Linked DNA regions of Homo sapiens. The protein of the gene in region 1 interacts with the protein of each later gene in a pairwise test. Each region holds a gene or a part of one and is shown on either strand. Other genes may lie near its edges.

What was found.
Region 2: the proteins of YAF2 (region 1) and SPANXN3 interact in binary tests that used the Homo sapiens proteins (3 or more experiments, as listed by UniProt).
Region 3: the proteins of YAF2 (region 1) and ANP32B interact in binary tests that used the Homo sapiens proteins (3 or more experiments, as listed by UniProt).
Region 4: the proteins of YAF2 (region 1) and POLR3GL interact in binary tests that used the Homo sapiens proteins (3 or more experiments, as listed by UniProt).
Region 5: the proteins of YAF2 (region 1) and TLK1 interact in binary tests that used the Homo sapiens proteins (3 or more experiments, as listed by UniProt).
Region 6: the proteins of YAF2 (region 1) and MARK1 interact in binary tests that used the Homo sapiens proteins (3 or more experiments, as listed by UniProt).
Region 7: the proteins of YAF2 (region 1) and XAGE1A interact in binary tests that used the Homo sapiens proteins (3 or more experiments, as listed by UniProt).

What each region holds. Positions count from the first base shown.
Region 1 is NC_000012.12:42,157,662-42,161,903, reverse strand, and holds part of YAF2 (YY1-associated factor 2), read left to right. Parts: intron 1-138; coding exon 139-291; intron 292-1,077; coding exon 1,078-1,315; 3' UTR 1,316-4,242. UniProt on the Homo sapiens protein: Binds to MYC and inhibits MYC-mediated transactivation. Also binds to MYCN and enhances MYCN-dependent transcriptional activation. Increases calpain 2-mediated proteolysis of YY1 in vitro.
Region 2 is NC_000023.11:143,508,050-143,511,912, reverse strand, and holds the end of SPANXN3 (sperm protein associated with the nucleus on the X chromosome N3), read left to right. Parts: intron 1-2,750; coding exon 2,751-3,098; 3' UTR 3,099-3,178; downstream 3,179-3,863.
Region 3 is NC_000009.12:97,981,867-97,986,676, reverse strand, and holds the start of ANP32B (acidic leucine-rich nuclear phosphoprotein 32 family member B), read right to left. Parts: upstream 3,337-4,810; 5' UTR 3,122-3,336; coding exon 3,068-3,121; intron 1,242-3,067; exon of another isoform or gene 1,156-1,241; intron 32-1,155; exon of another isoform or gene 1-31. UniProt on the Homo sapiens protein: Multifunctional protein that is involved in the regulation of many processes including cell proliferation, apoptosis, cell cycle progression or transcription.
Region 4 is NC_000001.11:145,967,305-145,971,546, reverse strand, and holds part of POLR3GL (DNA-directed RNA polymerase III subunit RPC7-like), read right to left. Parts: intron 1-4,242. UniProt on the Homo sapiens protein: DNA-dependent RNA polymerase catalyzes the transcription of DNA into RNA using the four ribonucleoside triphosphates as substrates. Specific peripheric component of RNA polymerase III which synthesizes small RNAs, such as 5S rRNA and tRNAs.
Region 5 is NC_000002.12:171,150,509-171,154,750, forward strand, and holds part of TLK1 (serine/threonine-protein kinase tousled-like 1), read right to left. Parts: intron 1-4,242. UniProt on the Homo sapiens protein: Rapidly and transiently inhibited by phosphorylation following the generation of DNA double-stranded breaks during S-phase. This is cell cycle checkpoint and ATM-pathway dependent and appears to regulate processes involved in chromatin assembly.
Region 6 is NC_000001.11:220,649,581-220,653,822, reverse strand, and holds part of MARK1 (serine/threonine-protein kinase MARK1), read right to left. Parts: intron 3,204-4,242; coding exon 3,103-3,203; intron 1,838-3,102; coding exon 1,673-1,837; intron 726-1,672; coding exon of another isoform or gene 723-725; coding exon 471-722; intron 1-470. UniProt on the Homo sapiens protein: Serine/threonine-protein kinase. Involved in cell polarity and microtubule dynamics regulation. Phosphorylates DCX, MAP2 and MAP4. Phosphorylates the microtubule-associated protein MAPT/TAU.
Region 7 is NC_000023.11:52,498,513-52,501,759, reverse strand, and holds the end of XAGE1A (X antigen family member 1), read right to left. Parts: intron 1,059-3,247; coding exon 1,036-1,058; 3' UTR 948-1,035; downstream 1-947.

The DNA.
Region 1 (4,242 bases):
ATTACCTTACATATGAGGAATTTTTATACTTGAAAGTTATTGTTATTAACTTGTTTTCATAATGTGAGATATTCTGTCATAAAGCACTTATGTTTTAAGTTGTAATTTAAAATACCTTTCTTTTTAACATGCACACAGGAAACCTCGACCTGTCTCCCAGTTGGTTGCACAGCAGGTTACTCAGCAGTTTGTGCCTCCTACACAGTCAAAGAAAGAGAAAAAAGATAAAGTAGAAAAAGAAAAAAGTGAAAAGGAAACAACTAGCAAAAAGAATAGCCATAAGAAAACCAGGTAAATGTGAAGAGTGTTTTATGACATTTTTGAAATAATAAAACCATTTAATTTTTTTAACCTTGACATACTAATATACACAAAGTGGAAGTAAAATATTTGGTCTCCTTTATTATAAGGTATCAGGAAAGGTTTTACTGAGTTTGAAAGATACATAGGAAATTAAACACAGAAGCCAGAAATACAAGCTTAAATGTGATGATGCTTTTTTCTTTTTACGAGATTGGAAGACATTTGTGTCTGGATTTGTTTTGTTTTGTTTTGTTTTTCCCTTAAGAAGAGCTATTTGAACCAGGAGTGGTTTTCAACATACCGAACAGATAATTGCATGGGTTTTAACCTATCAAAATGGTCATGCGTTCAGTCATAACAATCATGATACCCTTATTAGTGTGTGTCAGTGGAGTAACAGTCTTCCTTGCATATAGCTCAACCTTAGCTTTTATCACCTTCCTCCATGGTGCAACTATTTCATTGTTGTCTAAAACATCTATTTTAATAAAATTAATAAGCTGTCTGCAAAATTATGATACAGCTATAGAAGCACAAGTTCTACTTCTAGGCTGTCACAGTTTTTTGGTTGCATTGAAGAATGTTCATGAATGATTGGTTTGATTAATGTTAATGAGTTGAAACATTTTATGATGTTTTTGTGGCTAGTTACACATAAATTGCCTTAAATACATGTATTCATTTTGTTACTTTTACCACTTTTATTATTTATTATATGCTCAGAAATTTGGTAGAGGGAAAAGCTAGTTTAAAATTTCATTTTTTTATGTTTAGGCCAAGATTGAAAAATGTGGATCGGAGTAGTGCTCAGCATTTGGAAGTTACTGTTGGAGATCTGACAGTCATTATTACAGACTTTAAGGAGAAAACAAAGTCACCGCCTGCATCTAGTGCTGCTTCTGCAGATCAACACAGTCAAAGCGGCTCTAGCTCTGATAACACAGAGAGAGGAATGTCCAGGTCATCTTCACCCAGAGGAGAAGCCTCATCATTGAATGGAGAATCTCATTAAAGTTTATTTTCTCCAATTTCTTAGTCACTTCTGTCCTACCATGCAAATACACAGATTATGCCAAGAGGTACCACATTTTCATGACAGATACATTCATGCACAATCCATAATTTGAGTTTTACATAAAATAGAAATTTGTTAGAATTTGTTAGATTTTATTGCAATGATGCCTACCAAACATTTCCAGACTTAACATTTTGGTCTCTGCAGTTAAGTGCCATGAAAATGTGGTTGAATTATTCATTATGCAGTGTTATTGGTAAGTGTATTTTCACTTTTAGTTTAGTGAATTCTAACACATAATTCTTGAATTCTCTACTATTGGCATGTAACGAATTTAAATTTTTTATAACATAGTGCAAGCTGCCTAAATATGTATTATTTGAGAATTGTGAAACAGATAGTTATATGTATACAAGTCAAAGAACAACTTAACTATTGCTGCAACAGGTTTTTCTTAATGGTTATCCTCTTAAATACACCTGCTGGTACTTGGTGTGGTTAAATAGGAAAATTGTTATTAAATAAAGAATTTGTATGAACCTTTGCCAATGTTTTTGACACGTTTTACTAATTATTGTTCCTGAATTATGTTTCTGGTTTTATCTATTTTTTGAGGTTTTTTTGTTTGCTTATTTTTCAAAACATTCATTTATTGTAATGTTTACTAGCGGACTAGTAAACAATAAAACATTGATTATTTAGCTTTATAATTCAGGTTTAGTGCTATTGTCATTGAACACTGGTATTTTCTGTATCATATAAAACATTAAAATTCAAATAATTATAAGCATTTGGCAAAAACAAGAGAAAAGAAACTTGCCATATTTTACAAGCTGCAATTTTAGAAAAGCTTTAACTTAATGATAGTTTTATCATTGTTTTCTTGTCCCAAACTTATCCAGGGCCATAGAAGTATGAATCTAATTAAAACAGAAATGGGAATTATTGCACAGAAATGGGAAATAACTAATTTTAAATCAGTCAAATTGGCTTCTTATTAAATACAATAATTCTTATGAAAATCATAGTACCCTATTTTCAGACACAGCTGCCAGTTTACACATTTCTCAGTATCCTGAAAGGAAAAAAGTATAGCCCCACTTATACTATGTAAAATTACCAATAAAATATTTTTATGACTACAGATTTTGCATTTTTGTTTACAACTATTTAAAGAGTTTTATGTTGTATTTAGAATTTCAACCTAGAAACCACACAGTACTTAAATTCTCCTGGGGTCTCCTGCTTTCTCTTAACCATTTGCTTAATATATATCTACCTAAAGGAGACTTCTGAATTGTAAATGAACTTAAAAATAGAATGTGGATGCAAAATATCACATAAGACATCATGATAACATTTGAAGAAAAAATAAAACTGTAGACCCTAACAGTTGTGATATTTGGTGGTTTCATGTGGTAATGTAATTTTCTGTTTAATTACAGTACTTTTTACAGGCACAGTGGTACTGTCTTTTTTGTAAGATGCTAGTTGTGAAATACAATTAATTGCATACAGTAAAAGTCTGTGATTAAAACATTTATATACCTCATTCTTTAGTGTTGTTAAATGAAAAATTAAAATTTGTGTTTATTATAAGATACTTTCAATGGAATACCAGCTAACCAGATATGTTCCTTTAAAACATGAATTTTTTTGTCTTATTCTGTTTTTAACATGTTTCAAATGTTTTATACATTTTTGGAGATAGTAAAAATTTAAAAATGTAATAGGGAAAATATTTAATTTTTAAGTCAAAAACTATGCTTTAAAGGAATTACATCTTATGATCAAATAACTTTCAGGATGTATTTTAAATGAGCTGCAAGAGAGAAAAATCTGACAGGAGATGGGATTTTACCTGAATGGAGCATACTCATATTTCTACATAGGTGGGAAGATACTCATCTTTCTACATAGACGGGAACACGGTGTAGCATGGAGATTAAGCGTGCTAACTGACACCTCATGTTTGAATCCTGTTGTAGAATGGAAATGAGCTTAAATTACCCAAGCTTACTTTCCATCTATAAAACAGGGCTAATAATGGTAATCACATCTAATTTATAGGGTTTTTGGGAGGATTAAGTCAATCCGTGTAAAATTCTTAATTATCTGACACATACTGGTCACTCAGTAAATGTGAGCTTTTACCATTGTTATAGGTAAAATCCCATTACAAAAATACAAAAATATTTTTTGTAACAGTTATTTTCCTGCCCTCTTGGATGACCTAAAGTAATAGTGTTTTATAGATTTCACTAAATTTTCAGTGTAATATCAGATGTTTTCTCTGGATGCAGAAAGACCATCTTTCCATAATTAAAGAACCTGGTGGGTGTGCACTATGAGATTGGAGAAATGAATTAAGTTGACTTGAAATTATTTTACTTTTATTAATCACAGGTATCTCAACCTGCCTTTGTTTCACCCTACTTCAAGTACACTTCCACACCAGGAAAACAGACCCAAATTCCATAAACAGAACTGACGTTAAAATATGCGAAAGATTCAGAACCTAGGTTTAGGGTACATGTTTTTCTCTGTTTCATGAACTTACAGTGTGGTTTGAGCACTGGGTTCTTTTAGCCAAATTCCATACAAAAAGAATTTGGATGTTTTCCAGCATTTATTACCTTACTTTGCTATAAGTAAGAGTGAAGATAGGCCGGGTGTGATGGCTCATGCCAGTAATCCCAGCACTTTGGGCTGAAGCAGGCAGATATTTTGAGCCCAGGACCAGCCTGGGCAACATGGTGAAAGCTCATCTCTATGAAAAAATTTGAATATACATATATATATATATGTATATTTAAAAAGTGAATATAATTTGAGGCACAGAAGAATATTCTTAAAACCTTTTGTATTATACAATAGAAATAAAGGTTTTATTTTTATTAAATGCTTTCCTAAAATGATAGTGG
Region 2 (3,863 bases), on another chromosome or scaffold:
CTGACAGAATTACCCTGGGTTCCGAGGTGGTGATGGCAGTAGGGGTGGTGGACTCTAGGCCCCACCTGTCTTCAGGTACAGGTGGTGAAGCTAGATGAAGAGTTTCACTGAGCACAGTCTGACTTCCAGTGTTGCTTGATATCACAGATGGGGCAAGGCTTCCAGAGTGTCACGGGATTAGGCCAGGCTTTTGCTCAGTGTCCCTGTTGGATGCACTTATAACAGGCTCCTGGAGTTGACTGTTGCCAAGTTGAGGAATTCTGTATGCCTTGGGAACCCTGTTGAGTGGCAGCTATCAGCATTTGATATTTAGCCTGGCCCTTTTTTAGGTTTGGGTTTTTTAGTTCTTCCTCTCTAATCTTATAGACCTTAAAGGCCACTTTGATTAAGTCTCTTTGGAGGTTTGAGGGCCATCCTCCACTTTTTAAAGTTTTTTTTCAAATGTCTGGGGCTGACTGGGAGATAAAGTGTAAATGGAGGTAGATTTTGCCCTTAATGGTATTAGGGCTTAAGGTGGCATATTTAGTTGTGACCTTTGAAAAGGCGGGAGAGGAAAAGAGCAGGGGCGACTTTATTTATGCCAGCTAGAAGGCATGATATCATATGGCCTGGTTTCTGCCTGTCTACAGAAGTTGCCTGATAATTCCGATTGAGGTCAGTTCTGGGGACAGCTAGGGTCCCTACTGGGTTATGAGCAGCATCTTGTTGGTGGAGGGTGTTCTCATGGACCTGGGCACCCGTAAATATGTGTTCCCTGTCCTCCAGGGTGAGGGTAGAGGAGAGGATGACATATATGTCATGCCAGGTAAGGTCATAAGATTTAGGGAAGTACAGACATTCCTTGAGGAAGGAGGTAGGATCCATTGAAAAGGAGCAAAGTCTCTTTTCAGTATGGGAGAAGTCAGCTAGGGAACTTGAATTCAGATTATGCCTTCAGTCCTTGCAACCTCCTGCAAGGGAAAGACTTTGGAAGGCCTTTGGGCATGTGTCTGGTTTTCGGCAAAAGAGCGTTGGGCGTGAGACCTGGTTTGAGGTGGAGAAGGAAGGGGGATGGAGGGTGACAGTAAGGGGGTGGAGGAGCCGGATCCGAAGGAGAAGGTGGAGGGAATGGGAGAGGGCAGGAGCCAGACGAAGGGGTTTGTTGGCCAGGTTGAAATTCAGAGGAGGAAGGCTTGTCCCGAGGAGGAGGCATTTTGGGGGGTTTCTCCTTGAGGAGGAAGATTTGAAAAGGTGAACAAGATTGGCAGGAGAGTGAGTGAGGCATGAGCGGAGATAAGCAAAGCACTTCAGATCATTTACCATTGTGTTGGAGAAAGATTTTTAGATGATGTTGAATTTGAAAGTTGAATGTTTTGTTTTTTAGAAGAGGGGAGTGAATACTCTGGATGGGAGTGAATACTCTGGGGAAAGTGAGTACCCCAGAAGGGAGTGAATACCCCAGAGGGGAGTGAGTTCTCCAGAGGGAAGTGAATACCCCAGAGGAAAGTGAGTACTGGATTCCACCTGGGAGAAGGGACCTGGAGAGTTGGGACAGCCCCATAGCTATTCATGCTCCCCAGAGGACGGAGCGGCCAGAATGGCAAGTGTTCTGAGGCTGTCCCCTGAGAAGGGAGGCTGCAGTCACCTGGTGACTGGGGAGACCTCTCACCCAGCACTGGAATTTTTTTGGAGAACAAGCAGAAATAGAAAGGAATCCAGAAAGGAAGAATAGGGAGACTCACCCACGAATTGAAGCCCAGTGTTGGATGTGATGTCCAGCAATGGGGGTGATCCTGGTTGCAGCTGCTTGGGAAGGGGAAGGAAGGAAAAATAAGATGGAGAGTTTGATCAATATCTGGAGGTTAGTCCAGGGCTGGAGAAGATGAGAGAATAGGGGAAACAGGACTGGGAACAGACAGTCCACTCAGGATCTGGAAGTAGGCCCCGGTCTAGTTTGTGCTGCTTGCTGCTTTCTGCTTTCCAGGTTGCAAGAGAAAACTTACCCATTAGAACCCAATCACCGTCCTGGGTTTTGGCACCAAAGTGTTAGGTTTTGAAGGGAAGATGAGGGTGAAAGAAAGACAGACAGAGAGGGTGCATCTCAAACAACAACACAGGAATATTGCAGACACCTGTGGAAGTGGGGGACCAGCTTAATGCCAGAGCCCACTGCCGCTTATAGCCTGGGGTACTTACAGGTATGGGTGGGAGGGAGCTGGGCAGTATGGCTTGCTGCCCAGGAGGATATTGATAAGATGTTCTTATGATCAGGTGGTTTGGCCCTTTTTCCAGTGGAATATCATTGTGGTGTTCCTTTGCAGCTGCCTGGAAAGGGGAATGAAGGAAAAATAAGATGGAGAGTTTAATCAATATCTGGAGGTTAGCCCAGGGCTGGAGAAGATGAAAGAATAAGGGGAACAGGACTTATGATAGGGATGTTTCTTTAGTTGAGCCTTTGTCCACCTTGTGGTCAGGTGGTTAGGCAGGATGTTGCTCATGGCCTGAACCCCCATGGAATGTTTCACTTTGACCAAGGTCTGCAACATAGCAAAAACTTACAAAATCATGCAGTTTGGACTAACAGGTGACTCTACCCATGCTCCTCTTCTTCTTCTGCATAGATACCTACCCTATGATTTCACCTTGTTCTTCTCTGGCACACACCCCTTCCTCCACCTGCATTCCTTCTCATAAAGCCCCCCTTGCTATCTAGTCTCTATCCTATTCACCCAAAATAATGTCTTTCTGGCCTCTCCCTATTTTCTTACCAGATGCAAGAGGTACCAAACAGAGTCTTAGCCCCCGAACAGAGTTTGAAGAACACAAAAACATCAGAATATCCAATAATATTTGTGTATTACCTCAGGAAGGGTAAGAAAATAAATTCAAATCAACTGGAGAATGAACAGTCCCAAGAGAACTCCATCAATCCAATCCAAAAGGAGGAGGACGAAGGCGTAGACTTATCTGAAGGATCTTCAAATGAGGATGAAGACCTAGGCCCATGTGAAGGACCTTCAAAGGAGGACAAAGATCTAGACTCATCTGAAGGATCCTCACAGGAGGATGAAGACCTAGGCTTATCTGAAGGATCTTCACAGGACAGTGGGGAGGATTAGTCACACATGGAGAAACCAAATTGGACAAATCATCACCACTGATGGCGATGATTACAATAAAATCAAGTTTAAGGAGCTGATGACTGTGTTTATCTCTGCCTGTTGTCTGGTGTGGGGTGGGGAAGGGAAGGGAAGAGGTAGGCATTTGAGAAGGGAGGGATATGAGGTCCTGTAGGTTGGGAGACGGACCCACAGGTTGACAGTTAGCCAGACATTGCAAATAAGGACTGGCGGAGGACTGATTCCTCAGACAAATTTTCTTCTTAAAATTTTGTCTTACAGGAGAGGAAGAAAAGGACATGGTGTTTCTTGGAGCATGTGATTGTGTAGAAGGGTGTACAAAAAGATCTGTATTCGCTGGGCATGGTGGCTCATGCCTCTAATCCCAGCACTTTGGGAGGCTGAGACTGGCAGTCACCTGAGGTCAGGAGTTTGAGACCAGCATGGGCCAACATGGTGAACCCCTGTCTCTACTAAAAAATATATAAAAATTAGCCAGGCATGGTGTCAGGCACCTGTAATCCCAGCTACTTGAAGGCCAAGGCAGGAGAATCGCTTGAACCCAGGAGGTGGAAGTTGCAGTGAGCCGAGATCACGCCACTGCACTCCAGCCTGGGGGATAGAGCAAGGCTCTGTTTCCAAAATAACAAAAATTAAATAAAATAAAACAAAATAAAATGACCTGGATTGTATTTAGGTGACAGTGACACTCTTTCCAAAATGAAGACATCAAAATCACCACCTCCAGGCCACATACATCATAGT
Region 3 (4,810 bases), on another chromosome or scaffold:
TTATGGCATGTTCCAGCACATCACACATAAGGTATCATGTGACTAGCTGAATGTGATTTTAAGAGAGTGATCTCCAAACTTTTCATTTGCCTTAAGGATGACGCCTCTGTGCGAAAACACTTTAAACTCTCTTTTAGAATTTCCTTCAAAATCTACAGCATTTTTTCCTGAAAAACCCTTCACTTTTAGGTCAAAGTTTTATTCGCCCAACTGGGTACCTAACTCCCACTGGTCTCAGTCTCCCTAAGGGAACCTTCCTCTACCCCCACAATCTTAGCTGGCTCCCACAACACTCTCTCAAGGCCTCATCAACTCTCCCAAGTGCAAAAAGCACCACACCACCTCAATGGTTTCTCAGGCTTAAAATGTTTACTTAATAAACCAGTGGATTCTGCAGGCCAGTGCTGCCTAACGCAGCACCCACGAGCCACTTGTCACGTCTGAGCACTTGAAATGTGGATAGTATTACAGAGAAAATGTTTTAATTTAACTGAATTAAATGGCTCTGGCCTGACTGGCAAGAAGGTTAAGCTGATTACTTGAAAAATGAACTGGTGGCCGGGGGCGGTGGCTCACGCCTGTAATCCCAGCACTTTGGGAGGCCGAGGCGGGTGGATCACCCGAGGTCAGGAGTTGGAGACCAGCCTGAACAACAGGGAGAAACCCCGCCTCTACTAAAAATACAAAATTAGCCGAGCATGGTGGCGCATGCCTGTAATCCCAGCTACGCGGGAGGTTGAGGCAGGAGAATCGCTTGAACCCGGTAAGCGGAGGCTGAGGTGAGCCGAGATAGTGCCATTGCACTCCAGCCTGGGCAAGAGAGAGACTCAGTCTCAAAAAAAAAAGAAAAACAGAAAAAAGAAAAATGAACACCTGTAGATATACATGTGTTTTTAAAGCAATATTACTTCATATATGAAAACATCCTCTAAGGGGAACAGCAGACCAACTGTGTTTCCCAGAGGGAACACTACTCTTGAGAATTTTAAAAGACCTTTAGTTTGAGCATATCCTAAAGAATTCAAATTCTAGATTTTAACGCATTTCTGAAGACCCACGTGTGTACTTCTCTTGCGGGCACTTTGGCTAATTTTAGCTACTCCATATTCTACGGATTTGCAATTACGCCGCAATGGAAAAGTCTGGAATAAACACCTTCTCAAGCCAAGAAAGCCTCTCAAGTTTTGAGGCGCGAGCTGGGCGATAGGCTAGCACGTGGCGGGCACAAAATGTCTGACGGAAGGTCGGAAGAACGCACGCCCGCGACCCTCCATCTCGCAACCCCCGGAGCGGCCCACCCTCGCGGGCCCTCCGGGAAGGACAGCGCCGTGCGGTGGAGCCCGGCCCGCCCCGCGTTAGTGGTGACCTCAAAGACTAGAGAGCAAGGATTTAAAATGTCGAGCACACCAGGTAAACCCTGGTCGACGAATTCCCACAAGTTCGCGACTTGTTAACCACAGCCACCTGAGGGCACGAAACCTGGCCGCTCGCTTAGCCCAGAGCGGGTCGGGAGGCCCCGCGGGGCCGCCCTCCGCGGGAAAGCCACTGGCCCGCTGGGGCACCCGGCCGCGGCGCTAACTGGCCCGCGCCGGTCCGCGGCGGGGGGGGGGCTCGCGACGGCGGGCAGCCGCGCTAAACCCGGGAGACGAATGGGGCAATTCCCACAGGTCGGACCCACGCCCACGCAGCCGCGCCGCAAGAGGGCCGCCCTCAGGCCCCTACAGCCCGCAAGGCGCGCGGCCGACCGCACCAGGCCGCTCTCAAGCACGTGGGAGGCCAGAGGCCGCCCGGCCCACGAGCCGAGCCGAAGCCCGCCCAAAATCCCGCGCGCCCGGCGCGGGGCGGGGGCGGCCGCCTGCCGTTGCCCTTTTAAGAAGGGGGAGGGGGTCGGCAGCGCGCCCGCGACGGGATGAGTCGGCGGCGGCCGCGGCGCGCGGCTCCCGCCAGTGGGAGCCAAGCCCCGGCGGGGCGGGGGGAAACAGACCGAGGGCTCGGCGCGGGAAGAGGCGGCCGCCAGCCAGCGCCGAGGGCGGGCGGGCAAGGCCAAGCTCGTGGGCCGGCTCACCAGGCGCAGGGAGACGGGCACCCGCCAACATGGCGCTGCGGCGGCCTGTGGCGCGCCCCGGCTGGCGTGAAGAGCCGCCGCCCGCCCACACGGAGGGGCCAGCCTCCCGGGGCAAGGGCAGGGGCCCCGGGCGCCGCCGCCGCGGCACAGGGGGAAGGGCGAGGCCGTCGCCACAACGGTTGGCCTTGGTCGACCCGGGCTGCCCCTGGGAGGCAGGAGTGGGCAAGGCCGAGGGCGAAGAGGGAGCGAGAGAACGGGGGAGAAAGTTTTATTTTTGGGCTTGAAAAATGGCGGGAACCACGTCCTTTTTTCAAACTTGGCCTCGGGAGGGGCGGCGGTTGCGCCACCTCCGCCGCCCTGGCCCGCCCCTCCCCCGCTCCGCGCGCCGGGCCGCGCCCGCCCAGGCCTCCAGGCGCCCGAGGGGGCTTCTCGCTCCCTTCAAAAGAAAAAAGCCCCCTCCTCGCCCCACGACTGCTGACCTCGGCCGGGCCGGCGCCCACGGCGAGCTCCGGCCACAAGAGCCCCCGTCCCGCCCCACCCGCGCCCCTTCCCCGGCCGGCCCGGGGCGCGCGGAGCCCGGCCTGGCCCAGGCGGGGATGGCCGCGCAGCTCCTCGGCAGGCCGGGCCTCCGCCCGGCCGCGCATCCCGGGAGGCTGCAAACATGGCTCCCAGCGTTACACAACCCCCGCCTCCCTCTCTCGCCGCCGGCCACTTGCACACGCGCTCCCTCAGGGGAAAGACCCCGGCGGGCGAAGCGCTCAAAGTTTGCTTTCCCCCACACCGCTGCCTCCCCCCGGCCGCCCCAGGGGCCCGCGGGCGGCAAAGAGTTAATCCTCGCGCGCTCGCTCCCCCCTCCGCGCCCGCCCGCCTTCCCCGTCCGAGCCCACGAGCTGCGCTCTTCCCCGCGCCGGGGCCGGCGAACCCTCAGCCCGGGCCCCGCAGGTGGCCACCATTACATGCAAGTCATCGGGGGAGAGGGCACCCAGAGGGGTCTCTGCTTACAGCTGCCGGGGTCCGGTTCCTCAGCTCCAGGTGGATCCTCCTCTTCATGTCCATGTTCCCCTCTTCCCCCCTCTTCAAACTTAACTTTCCGCGGCGGGGGCGGAGGGGGGAGAGGCGTCCCGGCTTGCGCAGCGAGGGCCGTCGGAAGGGTTTGCTAGCGGCGGAGGCCGGCGGCGCGGTCCTGGGTGGCGGGCGGCGTGCGGGCAGGCGAGCGGAGCCCCCGGAGCCAAGTTACTCACGGGAGCGGAGAGAAACCATGGAGGGAAAAGGGGGCTGGAGCGCAGCGCTGGGCTCACTACCGCCGCCCCCGGCCGCGGCCTGCACTGCGCTTAAACCGGCGACGCGGCGCGGCAGCTGCTCGGCTCCACTCGGCCCCGCGCGGCGCTGCTCGGCTCGGCGGCCGCGGCTGCACCAAGGCGGGGCGGGGAGACTCGCGGCGGGCGGGGCGGAGGCTGGGGAAAGGCGCAGCCCGAATAGAGGAGCGACTTCCTCCCTCTCTCCGATTGCACGTGGGGCGGCTGATGTAAGACCTTTCTCGTGGGTGGGGGGGCTTCCCCGCCCCCCGGCCCCCGCCGCGCTGAGACTCCTTCTACCTCCGGCCCCACGTCGTCGCGCCCGGAGCTGGGCTTGCGGCCCGGGCTGGGAGGTTCGCGGGAAGGGTTGGTGGGAAGCTTTGCAGTCCGGCTGCGGGGGTCCCTAAAACCCAGTCCATCCGGGGAGGCTCACGGGGGCGGCCCGACGCCCGCGGAGGCGCGAGATGTGAAGAAGCCGGGGACAGGCTTTGACGTTCACCTTTTGCCTGCCACACAGTCTGGGGCCAACAGGCCGAACCCCGCTGCCTCCTTGGCAGACTGGCGTCCGTAGTGCCGCCGAGGATCCCCCCCGTCGGGACGGAATCGCGGCCGACCGGCCCTGGCAGGGCAGCTGGGGTCGCTTGCTAAGCCACAGAGCAGCCGAGCATCCCCACCCTGTTCAGGAGAGTCTCCCTCGGTTTTCTAACATTTTAATAGGAGCTAGAGAAGGAAACGATTAGCATTTCTAATAGGGCCTCAGGGTTTCCCCGCAGACTTTTTTTTTTAATCTCATTTATTCCTTAGGGCACCCCTGTGAAGTGTGTAAATTCTTGGTGGTCTAAGTTTCGCTGAAACCTGGCAGGCAGCCTTTGTCATGGTCTGGCCCAAAGGGTCCCAGGGGTTAGAGCACCAGATCGGGATGAGTGTTGTGCTTTGCAGAACACCGGGGAATGACGTTATATTCAGCGTACAATAAGTAAATACATAATGTGTCAAATCAAATACAATCTAAGAAGATCGTACTGACAAGAAGCACCAAAAACTAAGAACAATTTGTTAAAGAAAAACTTGAAATTCTATGTATTAACATGAAGTTTTATGGAAGTTAAGAAAGTGCCCCCTTTCCTATTTTACCTAAGTTTTAGTGGCAAACAACCCAAATTTAGTTGTAAACCAATTATATATCAGCTTTTAAAATACTGAGTGAGTTAACATTTGAAGATGAAAGTTTTAGAAGGAATATGGGAAAAGAAAAACTTTCTGGTAGTAGTTCCCTGACTCCGTTTGTAGTCTCAGCAGACGTCTTTATGACAAGGGAAAATGGAGACAGATGTTCTCAGGGTTACAAAAGGTCTGTAACTAAGGTTATGAGAACCACAGGGCTATGCAATGAGGGCTTTTACCAAACAAAACAAAACAAAACAAAAAATCGGTTTCATGAGCCAACAAG
Region 4 (4,242 bases), on another chromosome or scaffold:
ATAAAATGGTACTTCACCTCTGTGATCATCCTCCTAAAAACCCATAACCCCACACTAATAAAGAGAAAAATATCAAATTCCAGCAGAAAGGCATCCTACAATATACCCAACTCCTCAAAACTGTCAGTCATCAAAAACAGTAAAGTCTGAGAAACCCGTCACACTTAAGAGGAGCCTAAGGAGACGTGACAACTAAATATAATGTGGAATCCTAAATGGGATTCATGTACAGAAAAAGAGCAATAGGTAAAAACCAAAGAAATGTCAATCAAGTATCAACCTTAGTTAATAATAATGTATCAGTATTCATTCATTAATTGTAACAAATATACGAATCAATTTTTTTTTTTTTTTTTTTTTTGAGATGGAGTTTCGCTCTTGTTGCCCGGCTGGAGTGCAATGGCGCGATCTCGGCTCACTGCAACTTCCGCCTCCCAGGTTCAAGCGATTCTCCTGCCTCAGCCTGCTGAGTACCTGGGATTACAGGCATGCGCCACCACGCCTGGCTAATTTTATACTTTTTTTAGTACAGAGGGGGTTTCTCCATGTTGGTCAGGCTGGTCTCCACCTCCCGACCAGGTGATCCATCCGCCTCGGCCTCCCAAAGTGCTAGATTACAGGCATGAGCCACTGCGCCCGGCATTTTTTTTTTTTTTTTTTTTTTTTTTTTTGAGATGGAGTTTCGCTCTTGTTGCCCGGCTGGAGTGCAATGGCGCGATCTCGGCTCACTGCAACCTCCGCCTCCCGGGTTCAAGCGATTCTCCTGCCTCAGCCTCCCGAGTAGTTGGGATTACAGGAGCCCGCCACCGTGCCCGGCTAATTTGTTTTTGTATTTTTAGTAGAGACGGGGTTTCACCATCTTGGCCAGGTTGGTCTCGAACTCCTGACCTCGTGATCCACCCGCCTCAGCCTCCCAAAGTGCTGGGATTACAGGCGTGAGTCACCGCGGCCGGCCAATCTACAATGTTAATAGGGGAAACTGTGCACTGGGACAAATGGGAACTCTTGGCACTATCTGCTAAATTTTTCCGTAAGTCTTAAATTGTTCTAAAATATATAATCTATTAATTAAAACAAAAACAAAAAACAAAAAAAACTCGAGGCTGGGCGTGGTGGTTCACACCTGTAATCCCAGCACTCTGGGAGGCTGGGGTGGGATGACTACTTAAGTCCAGGAGTTTGAGACCAGCCGGGGCAACATAGTGAGATTCCATCTCTACAAAAAATAAAAAAATTAGCCAGGCATGGTGGCACATGCCAGTAGTCCCAGCTACGTGGGAGACTGAGGTGGAAGGATCGCTTCAGCCCGGGAGATAAGAGGATTCAGTGAGCCATGATCATGTCACTGCACTCACCCTGGGTGACAGAGACCTTGTCTCAAAACAAAAAGCTAAAACAAAAATCAAGTAGCAATTCAAAATTCCCAAGAGATTAGTTGGTGAAAAAAATATTTAAAAATAATATGTAGAAGGTAATCTTCTGTCAGAAATACATACACACATATGAATTAAAAATCTGTTATAGAAGGATATGTACCAAAAATTAACAACGGTTAATTTGAAGGATGAGGGTTTTTTGAATTTTTTCTGGTGGGGAGAGTTGTGTATCTTTTTTTTTTTTTTTTTGAGACAGAGTCTTGCTCTGTCACCCAGGCTGGAGTGGTGCAGTGGTGCAATCTCGGCTCACCGCAGCCTCCACCTTACGGGTTCAAGCAATTCTCCTGCCTCAGCCTCCTGAGTGGCTGGGATTACAGGCACCCACCACCATGCTTAGCTAATTTTTGTATTTTTAGTAGAGAGGGGGTTTTCCCATGTTGGCCAGGCTGGTCTCAAACTCCTGACCTCGTGATCTGCCTGCCTCAGCCTCCCAAAGTGCTGGGATTACAGGCATGAGCCACCATGCCCAGCCAGGTTATGTATGCTTTGTTTTTTTCTATACTGAATAGAATACTATAACAACATTAAAATATTAATTTAAAAATTTTTGGCTGGGCATGGTGGCTCATGCCTGTAATCCCAACACTTTGGGAGGCCGAGGCAGGTGGATCACAAGGTCAAGGGATCGAGAACATCCTGGTCAACATGGCAAAACCCCGTCTCTACTAAAATACAAAAATTAGCTGGGCATGGTGGTGTGCGCCTGTAGTCCCAGCTACTCAGGAAGCTGAGGCAGGAGAATCGCTTGAACCCGGGAGGTGGAGGTTGCAGTGAGCCGAGATGGCGCCACTGCACTCCAGACTGGCAAAAGAGCGAGACTGTGTCTCAAAAAAATTTTTTTTTAATGGGCCAGTTGTGGTGGTTCATGGAGGTAATTTCAGCACTTTGGGAGGCCAGGGCAGAAGGATCACTTGGGCCCAGGCAGTCGAGGCTGCAGTGAGCTATGATCACACCACTGTGCACCAGTCTGGGCAACAGAGTGAGACCGTGTCTCAATAAATAGATAAATAAAATTTAAATGTCGTAACAGAATACTAAATGAGATTAATAATCTGTAGCTAGGAGAGGGTAGAAAAATGTATATCTGAGGAATCTGGGAAGTTTCAAGCCCAACTGCCATAAAAAAAATTGAGGAAACAATGGCTGTTGGTTAAGATATCAAATTGCAATCTGTTTGAAAAGAGCATATTAAGGGAGAGAAGATGTCTCATGGAGACTAGAGAAATAATAAGAATTTGTTGGCTGGGCGTGGTGGCTCATGCTTGTAATCCCAGCACTTTAGGAGGCTGAGGTGGGCGGATCACGAGGTCAGGAGTTCAAGACCAGCCTGACCAACAAAGTGAAACCCCGTCTCTACTAAAAATACAAAAAATTAGCCAGGCGTGGTGGTGCACGCCTGTAATCCCAGCTACTCAGGAGGCCGAGGCAGGAGAATAACTTGAAATCAGGAGGCAGAGGTTGCAGTGAGCCAAGATTGTGCCACTGCACTCCAGCCTGGGCAACAGAGCGAGACTCTGTCTCAAAAAAAAAAAAAAAAGAATTTGTCACCGTGTCTTCAGCCCCTTTTAAGCGAGAGAACATTCTAACCAGCTGGTTAAGTATCTTTCCACTTGACAGATATAGTTCTGGCAGTGGAGATAGGAGCTGCTGTGACTGCAAAGCAATGAAGAGTCAATAAATGGCCATGAGTTTGAGGTTAGACAAATTCCACACCATTTCTACACATTAAATGAGTGATCCTCTAAGAATGCAGGGGAAAAAGAAGACAAAATTTTATTTAATACAGGTTGGGAAATAAACCATCCATCTGCCCCATTCATCTTAGGAATCTATAGGGAGTCTCTGCTATTAAAGATTGTGATGGAGTTAAAATTCTTGAGGATACTTAAGGTCTCCCATAATCTAGTCACAATCTGCTCCTCCTTAACATCAACCTTTCCAGAGAGTTTACCCCTGTACTCTGTTTTACTCCAAACAACACTCATATACACTATGCTCATTCCCAATTATTCATACATATATATTGTGGTGGAAGTTACTGAGAGGCAGGTTTCAACTAAACATACAGAAAAACACTAACAATTACATCAAATTTAAGGAAGGCAGTACATGTAGAGGTTAAGAATATGGTTTTGAATCCCAGTTCAATTTCCTAGCTACAAAACTCTGGTAATTTATTTATTGTCTCTAAACCTGTTTCCTCATCTGTAAAATGGGAATAAAAATAACAATAATAGAATCATTTCACTCAACAAATATTTACTGAGTGCTTACTAGGTGTGCCAGGCACTGTTCTAGATTCTATGGATATAGCAGTGTGCAAAACAGACAAAAACATGCTGCACCCACGGGGTTTAAATGGAGCTTTCATTCCAGTGGAGGCATCAGCAAACAAACAATACTTCAAGCCATGAGACTAGGTGAGACCCCTAAAGGAGTGGATGTGGACAGAGAAAATAAGAAATCCAGGCACTGAGGCCTGGGGCACGCTGATGTGTAGAATTTGCTATACATGTAATAAATAAAGCAAGAAATTAACACCCTTAAAATCTTGGAAATCCAAATTTTAAAAAATCATCTCAATAGAAAAAATGGGCAAAGGACATGAACAGGCAACTGGCAAAGAGAATGGCCATGTCTGGACATGGTGGCTCACTCCTGTAATCCAGGGTTTTGGGAGGCCGAGGTGGACAGATCACTTGAGGCCAGGAGTTCATGACCAGCCTGGGCAACATAGAGAAACCCTGTCTCTACTAAAAATACAAAAAATTAGCCAGGCACAGTGGTACACACCTTTAATTCCAGC
Region 5 (4,242 bases), on another chromosome or scaffold:
GCCACCACAGTGGCTACCCTTGCTGTAGCTCATCTCCCAGGTTCCAATGATTGGTTAAGGAACTGACAATCAGAATTGATTACCAACAACACAACTGACATGTGGACATCAGGAAAGAGAAGCTGTCTTTCAAGTGTGGTTGCTAAGCTAAAGGTATATGTCTGGGGCTCCAGAAGCAAGAGGCTAGAAAAACCCAGAAAGGAGACAAAGAAACCCAATGACATTACTTGCAACCTTGGATCTAGCTGTTTCCAAAGCCATTCCATCACCCTCCACATACAATACCCAGTATGTGAACCAATACACTCATTTTTTAACTTAACAAAGTCGTGTTGTTATTACGTGTAACCAAAGGATTCATGACTAACATCCTACCTAAAGAAGAGTAGTTAACCAATTATAGTGCATCCATTCAAGGAAATAACATTGACAGAATAGTGTAACTGTTAAGAGCATGTACTCAGCCCAGTCTGAATCCTGGCTCTGCTAAATATTCTCTATGTGTGCCTGGGTACATTCCTTTTTTTTTTTTAGACAAGGCCTCACTCTGTTGCCCTGGCTGGAGTGTAGTGGCGTAATCACGGCTCACTGCAGCCTCAACCTCCTGGGCTCAGGCGATCCACCTCAGCCTCCCAACTAGCTGCAACTACAGGCGTGCACCACAATGCCCGGCTAATTTTTGTATATTTTTGTAGAGACAGGGTTTCACCATGTTGTCCAGGCTGGTCTCGAACTCCTGCGCTCAAGCCATCTGCCCACCTCAGCCTCCCTAAATGCCGGGATTACAGGCATGAGCCACTGTGCCTGGCCCTTGGATACATTACTTAACTTCTCTATGCCTCAATTTCCTCATCTATAAAGTCGGGATAATAACAGGACTTCATGTGATTGTTAGGAGAAGCAAATGAATTACTATTTACAAATGCCGGGAATAGTGTCCAGCATTAATAAATATGTGTATCTTTTTTTTTTTTTTTTTTTTTTGAGACGGAGTCTTGCTCTGTCGCCCAGGCTGGAGTGCAGTGGCGCCATCTCAGCTCACTGCAAGCTCTGCCTCCCAGGTTCACACCATTCTCCCGCCTCAGCCTCCCGAGTAGCTGGGACTACAGGCGCCCACCACCACGCCCAGCTAATTTTTTTGTATTTTTAGTAGAGACAGGGTTTCACCGTGTTAGCCAGGATGGTCTCGATCTCCTGACCTCGTGATCCGCCCGCCTCAGCCTCCCAAAGTGCTGGGATTACAGGCGTGAGCCACCGCGCCCAGCCATGTGTATCTTTAAGTAAATGAAATAAGTATCTTTAAGTAAATGAAATAAGTAACAGAGTAGTATACAAAGTTGAACTAAACTACATATTTACACAGATGTTTAAAAGAAATCGGCAAGGAAAAGGGAAATTTTATATTTTTTATGAGGCAAATATACAGTATCAAAAAAGGAAAAAAGTAAAACATGTCTCTGGTCTTAGGAGACAGGATGAGTATGATTAGCCTCACACAAACCCCTCTGACCTTCACCAGAGGAACTACATTCATCCTCAGATAGGAAGCACTTACCTAAGTGTCCAGTGGGGAATCATGAAGTCACACAACTTATCATATTAACAGCAAGAATTTAAACCTAGTAGTTTATTTACTCCAGCTAATTAGTTTTCAAGGAAAAGCACAAATTTATGAGTATAACCAATTCTTAACAATCCACATAGATGAAGAGGAAAAAATATTTTAAGTCATCCCCCCAAAATACTTATATTTGGCTAATGAATCTATGTAGAATATAATCACTTTTATTTAAATACAGGTTAAATTGCCTTCTTGAAATTCATTAAATTTCAGACCTAATGATGAAGCCACATTGGAAAAATTTAATTCAAGTTTGACAACCTACCACCTGGATCTGCTCTGCTCTGCATATCTTTCCACTCCATGACTGATAAATTCCTATCAATCCATTCAAATCCTGCCTCTCAATTAGGTTTGCTATATAATACATGCTACCAAAGGTTTTGTTATTGTTGTTGTTGTTGTTGTTGTTAGCAATAAAAGAATTAAAACTAAGTATTTTTTTAAAATACTTTTTTACAGATTAGCTAGACTGCACATCCTCTTCCCCTTGCCCATACTGAATACTATTAACAGAGTCAAAGATCTGCCACTAAAGCATTATAATTTAGTTTAAAGCCTTGTCCATCAGGTTATAAAGCCTCCACAATAAATAGACTGCTCCGATACTGACAGTGGGAAGTTTTTTGTTCAAATTCTAGTATTTACTTGTTATGGCTCCAGTGGGTTTATGAGGCCAAAATATCAAGATAAATGGAATTACAAATTAGATTATCTAACATGGAAATAAAATTTTTCATTGATGTATCTCTAACATTTTCCATGAATGGACAAAACTTATCTTAAAAAAATGAAGTGTAGGATTTGCACAGCTGGTACAGCTTTCTAAATTGGGTTGTTTGGTTGGGGTTTTTGTATTTTTTTAAATCTTATCTTCACACGTGTATAAAAACTCATGCAAAAAAAAGTTAACAAAAGTTTAGAAGTAAAATGAATAAGCCTGGAAGTCTGATTAGTAAGTTAAAATCTGCTTAGGAAAAACTACTAAAATACTAAAAACCAAATTTTCATATTTTAGGCAATATATCCTAGTGATTAAAATACACCAACTTGGTTCAAATCCCCATCATGTACTACTCTAGGTCACACTGGTAAGTCACTTTACTTCTCTGTGCTTCAGTTTTCTCATCTGAAGATGGGAATAACAACTGTATGTAACTCAGAGTTATGAGATATAAGAATTAACATGTGCGAACACAATAAACTTTAGCTATTACTGTTACTGTTATCCATATCACCCTCTAAAATATAGTTCACTTAAGAATTACTAAAATAAGCATCTTCCTGGGTCTGAAATATGTGCATACCATGATATATAGAGAGATGATGTATGTGAAACAGTCCTTTGACAAAACTTTTAGTTGAGTGCCAACTCTGTAGAGGATGTCCTCCTGTGCACTGAAAATACGAAAATGAACAAAATATAGTCTCTGAATTCAAGACCTTTCTGTCTAGTAGACAATATAAATAAAACTATAATAAAAGTAGCATGATGCAGATGCTATGGAAACAGACAATCCTGTGAGACACTAAACAACACAGGCACTTAACTAGGGGCAGACACAGGGGTCCCAGATAAAATAAACTCCAGCAATATTTTCTGAGGAACAATCACCTACTTACTTCACTTCCGGGTATCACACTGTTATTTACGCAATTTATATTATTAATATATTAATAAGTGTTTTACAAAAAACAAGACTACCTATCACACTACTTACCATGCTCATAAACTTAAATACCCTTTGGTATTAATGAAGATGTTTTCTTTTTTCTTTTTTGAGACAGGGTGTCACTGTGTTGCCCAGGCTGGAGTGCAGTGGCATGATCATAGCTCACTGCATCAACTGCAGTCTTGAACTGCTGGGATCAAGGTGGGATCCTCCCACCTCAGCCTCCCCAGTAGCTAGGACTACCGACATATGCCACCATACCCAGCTAACTTTTTTTTTTTTTTGAGACAGGATCAGGCTAGTCTCAAACTCCTGGACTCAAGCAATCCTCTTGCCTTGGTCTCCCAAAGCTGGGATTACAGGCCTGAGACATAGCACCTCGCCTGATGATATTCTCTTAAAAAAACAAAATATAACCTTGCAAAGGTTATACTGCCTCTTCAAGAAACATTTCTTTCACCAATAAATAAAAGCTACAAACTTTCCCCTAATAAATTATATTACGACTAATGTCACAGGAATGACAATATTTTTGAGCTGGAAGAGACCTTTGAGAGCCTCTAATCCAATGCTCTCATTTTACAGATGAAAAGAGGCTGTAAAGTATAATGGAAAAAAAAAACCAACCTGAGAGTCAGAAAACTGAATTTTGGGCCCAACTGTCTTACAGTGAAAGCCTGTGCAAATTATCTGCTTCCTCATCTGTAAAATGAGAGGTTTGTACTAGATTGCTTCCAAGATCCGGTTCAGCTCTGTAATTCTTAGTTTATGGAACTGAAGCAGAGATAAGCAACTTGCCCAAGGTCACACAGCTAGTTAATAGCAAAGTAAAGACTATCCTCAGATCCCAACTACAATCACTTTCTCCCCTATACCATACTGCTTCTACTACTTCATAACAATATTCCTGTAATTTATTTTAAGATTCTTGAAAATTATTAACAAGCA
Region 6 (4,242 bases), on another chromosome or scaffold:
TGATAAGGTTTTATGATGTAAAATTGCATAAGTGATCTGTGACTCTGGTGTGTAGGCTTTTTATGCAAGAAGAAAAAAATGTAAATTATATATTATTAGTAAGCAATTTAAAAGTATTGTCAAGATAAATTTGAAGGAAACATGTAAACTCATTTCTTTTCCTCAATCAAGGCTTTTAAATATAAAATAATCTTTTGTTAAAACACACATTTTTGAAGTTAAGTCTTTGTTCTTTCCATTTTATTTTACAGATTTTTAAAATCTCATTTTGTCCATTTTTTCCTTTCTCTCTCTTAAGGAAAAATACTTTATGTCTTCCTAGATTTTTTTCTTCCAACTCTGTAAAAGAGCAGCTCTAATGAAATGTTATGAAACCATTTTAGAAAATTATTATAAAGATTTTTTTAAAAAGTCTAGTTTCCTTTATAATTTCTAGAGGAATCAAAACACGACAGTACATTGGTACTGACCTGCGAACAAATTTGGATGTGATTTTGCTTATTATACCAGTTGACGTTCCCCTTCTGGCATGTGCAAATGCACCCGTTTCATGGGATGGTGAAGCAGGTGGCCCATTATAAGCAACGCTGCGTCGCTCCCGGAGCTGTTCACCATGGAAAGTGCTTCGGCTTGAGCTCCCTCGGGGAAAACGGGTCCGGTCTGGAGTCGCAGTACTAATACTGTGAGCAGATGGGGAAGCAGCAGGCACTCTCTGGGTTGTACTGCTGGGACAAATTAAGATATATCATTCAGAATAATGACAAGAAAACCTTTCACTCAAGCTAAAAACTTGAAACAAATAGCTATGGCTACTTCTTTTGGCCCTACTTTATTTGTTCACATTAGAGATGTGAGACATGGGTTTGGAGTAAAATTTCAGTTTGAAATTAGGTACCTTTTGTTTGGTCACTAAAAATCAAGAAATGACTGAAACAGGGACACAAAGATAAATACTTTTCAGTATCAGGAATGCCAAACCAGGAGTACTGCAAATATTTTTTTAATATTCTCCTGAAACCACTTAGCAATGTTGAACACAAATTTTATTGTTTATTAAAAAGGCTTTGAATAAAATAATTTCCTATTTCTAATTTAGGCCTCAGTGATGCTACAATACCACATGGCACCACCAATATGCCTAACAAATCTAACAGAGGGTTAAAATGTTCAGATGTACTGAATTTGGGAAATCTTAAAATAGAAAAATACTAGAAAAACAATTATACAATTTTATATCTGAACAGGCTCTTTGAGTTCATCAGTTTCATTGACAGGAAAACTGAAGCCTGGTTTTATTAAGAACAAGGAATTGAGCCTGATCATTATCTGCGGGTCTCAACTCACAGTCTAGTGTTTGTTCGTATGGTTTAAATAATAAAAAAATCAATTTACCTAAATGACAAATTAAACAGCAATTTTTAACTTTATAGACGGATGTAAAATCAAATCCTTAAAAAAATTCCTCTAGAAAATGATTTAAGTTATATGCAACATTTCCAATAACAGCCAAAGTACATAGAAAGTTTATGTTACAATTCAATTTTTCCTCCATAACAAACACTGAATCTTATTAGAAAGGTCTTAATGTGATGGTGACTATCATGTATTTTCACATGGTGCTATATTTTTAGAAACTCTTAATGAACAAAATGAGATGTAACCAACACATTACCCAGGCCGGTAAGCTTCAGAGCCGTCTTTAATGGTTGGCAGTGTGACTTTAATAGGATGACCAGAAGTGGACATGGACTTCTGGTGGCGGGGTCGTGCTGAGGGGACAGCAGAGGCCACAGAAGAGCCTGCAGAAGATATGCTACTCACAGACATCTCCGTAAGGCTTTCACCATAAAGCAGTTGAGAAGACCATGGAAAAAAAGAGGAAAATTTGTGGTTTACTAAAATTTAAGAACTATATTTTAAAAAATCTAAACTGACTAACACCTTTCATGACTGAAACATTTGAAAGAAACTAACATTAGTGGCATTATTAATGACTAACAAAACAATTAATATTCTTATGAAAAGTATACAGGGTGAATTTATCACTATCATCTATGAAAAAAATCTCACACACACTATGTATGTAAATGTGAGAAAGTACAAAATTATTTTTGTGGATATACGATAGTTTCAGATAAAATTATTATGACTGGAGTCATTTTTTACTTCCCCAAAGTCACAGTTTGGTGTGATATGTTGCTGTAGTTCATTGTCCATTATTCATACAATCAGAATTGATAATTATACCAAAAATATTATCTCTAGATTCATCAAAACACTTTTAGATCATATTATGAGTCAATAGGTTAACTGTTGCAGATTAAAGGAGCTGCAGATTAAAATTTAGTATAGGAAAAATCATAAGTCTGAAATCAATTTCCAATTATCTTATGTCCAAAGAAGATACATTTTTCTTTGTATGCCTTACAATAGCACTTACTTTACATTCTTATTAAGTGAGAAGAAACAAATGTGAGAATGGGTTGTACACACTACTGAAATGACTGAAGGTGGTACTAAGAAAATAATTTCATTAGAATAGGCTCCATGTCTTTGTACTATATTGATGAGTAGTCCTTGTGACTCATGATAGAAAGAAGACACATCTTTTAAGTAATAAAAATAATATGATTTATTATTATTTGAAATAAAACACTTTAAAAATTATGTGGTTCTGAATGATGAGAAATAAGATGGTCACATTTTTTTCAGAGGGAGAAAAATAAAGCCTTTATTGAGATACAGCAATGACTTGATGGGAAGTGAAAGGGAAGGAGGCAGCAGGTGCATAAGAGAATAAGATTCAAATTATGAAGATGAAATTAGGATGGTATGATCTGCTTTGTTATAGAAAAATATTTACTATCAGATTTTACTCAGAAATTGGCAGGTAAAGAGATTTGTTTCTTGTTTTCTCTAAATGTTTTCCCATCCTTCTATCCTGGTACAGGAAAGATGTCTTACTAAGAACGGTTGGTTGCAATCTTACTATTTCATGTAATAACTGCTTTTCTCCTGACCCATTCGGCTGCAGGCATTTCAGCAAGGGCACTAACACAGAACAACAGCAAAGGTATTACTACTTGGCACTGTGGCATTTACCTGCTGTCTTTTCCATTCTGCAATGCTACGTATCGATCTGTGGTCCTTTCACAGACATATGTATTCCTTCTTGCCATGCTACCTCCAGAATACACATTGTTCTTCAAGAATAAAAAAAAGGCAATTAAAAAATTATAAATATATTTGTGGAAAGCCAAAGAAATGTATTTAAGCTGACTTTGAGAAAAATCCACAGAATTTTAATTGATCAGAATCTTATATTAACAAGATTATCCCCTGCCTCTCTCTAATTTAGATTTCAGAAGTAAAAGACAAAGCATCAAAAATGAACTCATTACAGTTTTAGCTTATCCTCCTATAATAGCAGCCAGCAGTTTGGAAGCAATAGGAGAGCTGGGTTTCTATTCACTCCCTCCTTTGTGAGCTGGTGGTAGAGAAAGGGCAGGAGCAGGGGTGTGAGCAGCTCTAAGTAACAAGGAGTGCAAGCCAACTCCACACTAAGTATCATCACCAACAGGAGCCTCGGGCAGTGAAGATGGCATGCCCACTCAGAAGCCAGTGGGCTGCCTTTCTTCACCTGCTTGGGAAACTCTCTCAACCACCAGGAATATTAAGCAGACTAAATGCCCCAGGATCAAAGGCATGTCCAGCTGAGGCCACCAACAGTGGTGTGTGCAGTGCCACCCTGAAGATATTTCCTCGAGTCTCAGGTTTGAGCTAGAAGGCAGGCCAAGTCTGAGGAGCCTTGGAGAGAAGAGAGAAAATAAGCAAAAAGGGATAGGCAGGTAATTCTCCTTACCATGCACACAACCTTTGACCTGTAACCCACTGTTGTGCCTGCCAAATCCTTGACTACTCACCAGTAATAAAATATACAGAAATGATTTTCAATGTGGATATAATACTCTTCTGTTTAATCCTTACCCAACAGAACAAAAATTTTTGCTACTTTTGACTAACCCAGCATTTAAAATATATAAGCAACCTAAACATTGTTGAATCATGAGGGCTACAAACTTAATAGATACTTGCTTGAATTCACTTTGAAGAAGGAAAAAAACTCATATAAACAAAACTGAATACAGATTTAAAATTTTTCAGTAGTGCAGGTTCCTAGATGGAAGGAATTTTGTCACCAGTTATATAAAAAGCATATGCTAAAAACTATAAAAGTATGGT
Region 7 (3,247 bases), on another chromosome or scaffold:
TAGGTAGGACCCGTCATCTTGCTTCAGCAAGTTGCCCTGGTTCCTTGCCGCTTACTCCTACCTAGGCCCTAATTCTTTCATCCAGCTCTATAGCCTAGGGACTTCTCACATGTTTTGTGGCAAATGGGATACCCTAAGAAAGGAAGCAGATGAGGAGAGACATAGCGCAAGGTATGGGGAAAGGGGTAGGGAGCTTCTGTGCCCACTAGGGGCATGCTGCCCTCCATATGTTCAGCTAGCCAGAAGCCGTCTGAATCCTGTCCTTTTGGTTTTGATGGAGGTTTTCATTCTGTAGGCGTGACTGATTAAACTGTTGTCCTGCCACTGGGGATCAAATTAACCTTCTGCCTCTTCCCGAATGCTGGGGGGGGGGGAGGGGCAGCTGAAAGCCCCAACCCTCCTATTCCCCAAACTAGAGCTACCTAGGTGCTGCCAGCCATGAGTCAACTCACTAGCATATAAAAAGACACCACTTTGTGGAGATTTTAAAAATTGTAGTAGTTGTATGCCAGGAAGCAGGGTCTAGGACCAAATATGTATTACACAATATCACACCTGTGCATACCAGCTCAATCAGAACACAAAATTTCAAAAATGATACTGAATTTTAAAAAAAAAAAAAAAAATAGAGTCTCTATCTCAAAAAAAAATTAACCTCATCCTGGACCTCCTGGGCTGGAGGCATCCTCCACCCTTCGGCTCTAGAGTAGCTGGGGCTATAGCTACATACAAACTTGCATACATTCATGCATTCACTCTTTTATTTTTGTAGAGAGAGAGTCTTGCTTTGTTGCCCCATCTGGTCTCAAACTACTGAGCTCAAGCAATCCTCCTGCCTCAGCATCCCAAAGTGCTGGGATTACAGGCGTGGACAACCGCAGCCAGAAACAATTTCCAATATTATCAAATACCTGGGAAGGAAGTGAACCAAAGATGAGCAAGACTTCTTTGGTGAAAGCTGCAAAACTTTATTGAGATAGTTTAAGTCAAATATCTAATATAAAACCAGCTTGCGTTGTTTCAGCTTGTCTTCATTTAAACTTGTGGTTGCTCTTCACCTATAACAGAAGCATAACAGGTGGGAACATTACTAGCAGAACTGTGTTTAAATGACATTAAGGATATGGAAAAGACACCAAAGTTTTAGTTTTCTACAATGGACAAAACCAGAAGCCTAAGAGTCACCCTTTTGCTTATATTCATGTAGACCTCTGAAGAGACTTTGACAACAGTCGTCCAAGTGTATGCATTAAAGATGTTTTTCAAACACACCCTGCTTTCTAGTGCTACAAGGAAAGCAAGACAGTCCAAGGTCCGAACACATTAAATGAAGTGAACCTACTAAAAAGGGGTTTAAAGTAGAAAGCAAACATTGTGCATAGTTTTACTCAAAATACCAGCACCACACAAAAATCCTAAGAAACAAAAAAGGAATTTACGAAAAATGTATAATTTTTGGCAAACACTCTTTTAATATTCTGGCTTGAATCTGTGGTCTGCATGCCAAACGGGCTCCTGGAAATGGTCTGAATACTATCTTGGAAGAAAACGGTTACTGTCACCTTAGGAACTGAATAAGTAAAGTGAATAGAAAGGCCAGCATTGCATTTGTTTTTACTCTATTGCGCAGAAGGGCAAAAATATTTATTTGGGCTCGTTTACCCTTCTGTGGTTTTTAAGGTACAGCAACCGTTTGTACCCAGTTTTCTCCTACCGTGATGTCAACATGAATCATGCCTCTTTTTACACTTGAAAGTATTCCCATTTGTATAATTAAGTATATGGTCGCATTACTCTTAAGCTATCACTATCAGTTTTGTCATCAATATGTGATAGCATTATGAACTGTGTCACACATGAACACATGGAGGGATACGGGAATGGAAAACAAGAGTAGGACAGCTGAAAAAGCCAAAATTTGTTTCTAAAAGTAAATGTTTCTGAGGGACAACTGGAAAATTTCACAGTTTCTTCCACAGGCTTTGTGATGCTTAATCAGGTATTACAGAAATAAATAATGCATGCCTTCCTAGCTTACCAACCATTTCATCCATGCTCTGAAAATCTTAGCGTTCAAGACTGTATTCACTTTCAATAAAGCCCTGTATTAAATCACTCTGTCTTGTTCATATTCCATGTTGTGCTTTTTCCGTTTCTTCAAGATTGTGTAAATTACTGAATATTCGTAGCTAATTTTCAAAACACCAATCTTTTCAATTTATGACATTTGAACTACTTTTCCTTATACTAATGATTCGTACCTGTCTTTTATTCACTACCACTTTCTTTTTCCTTTAAGTTTATTCTCTGGCTCTTTTATTGTTATTTCATAGTATTCTTTTCCTTTAACATGTAACGTGCTATTTATTTTAATAAGACGTGCATTTAAAGCTATGATCTCCCTAAGAATACAACTGAGGCTTGTTCAGTGGGCTCCTGGAAATCGTCTGAGAACTATCTTTTAATGTAAATAGTATAATGGAATGGTTCAGCAGGGTACAGTAAAAACACTTAGGTAATTTCTCCCTTAAACATGGGGTGCTTCCTTTAACTTCAAGAGGTATTGTAATTAACAGTCACCAATTTGGAAAATATGTGTAAAACATACTTGTGTCAACTACTCAGGAACTAGCACAGTGCTGTTGTTGAACTTCAAACCCTATCATCTAATGCCTCAAGGCAGAAACCTGTAATATGTAACCTATGGTATGGTTAGAGGTGACTCTACTATATGAGTCTTCAATCTAATTACACGAAGTAGTTCATGAAGACTGACGGGAGGGCAGGGAGCATGCTTAGCAGAAGCATCTTACACCCACCTTGGGCATCACTGACCTACATGCATTCTCTCTACTTCACTGGCCACAGAAACCTGATGATCTCCTGCCATTTTATCATTCAGTCATTCAAGGCTTCACTGCGGGAAGGCTTTAAAATGCAATTATTCTTTAAGAGACAGAGAACTCAGAATTTGGCAAAATACAAGAACACTCATACAGGGCTCCACACAGGAAAACAAACACCAAGCAGAGTGCCCGCTCATTTTCCTAGGAACCATGAAATCTCAACTCAGACACTATAATTGGACTGAAGCTGATTGTTATGATAAACAAATCATGAAGATCAGAATATCTTGGTCTTCTATCCAACAGAACCAGAGCATGTGGAAATTAGCAACGAAATGGATTTTAATCTATCTGATGTGCATCCACTCTTTTCACTAAGAGCAAGGATGCCTGTGGAATTT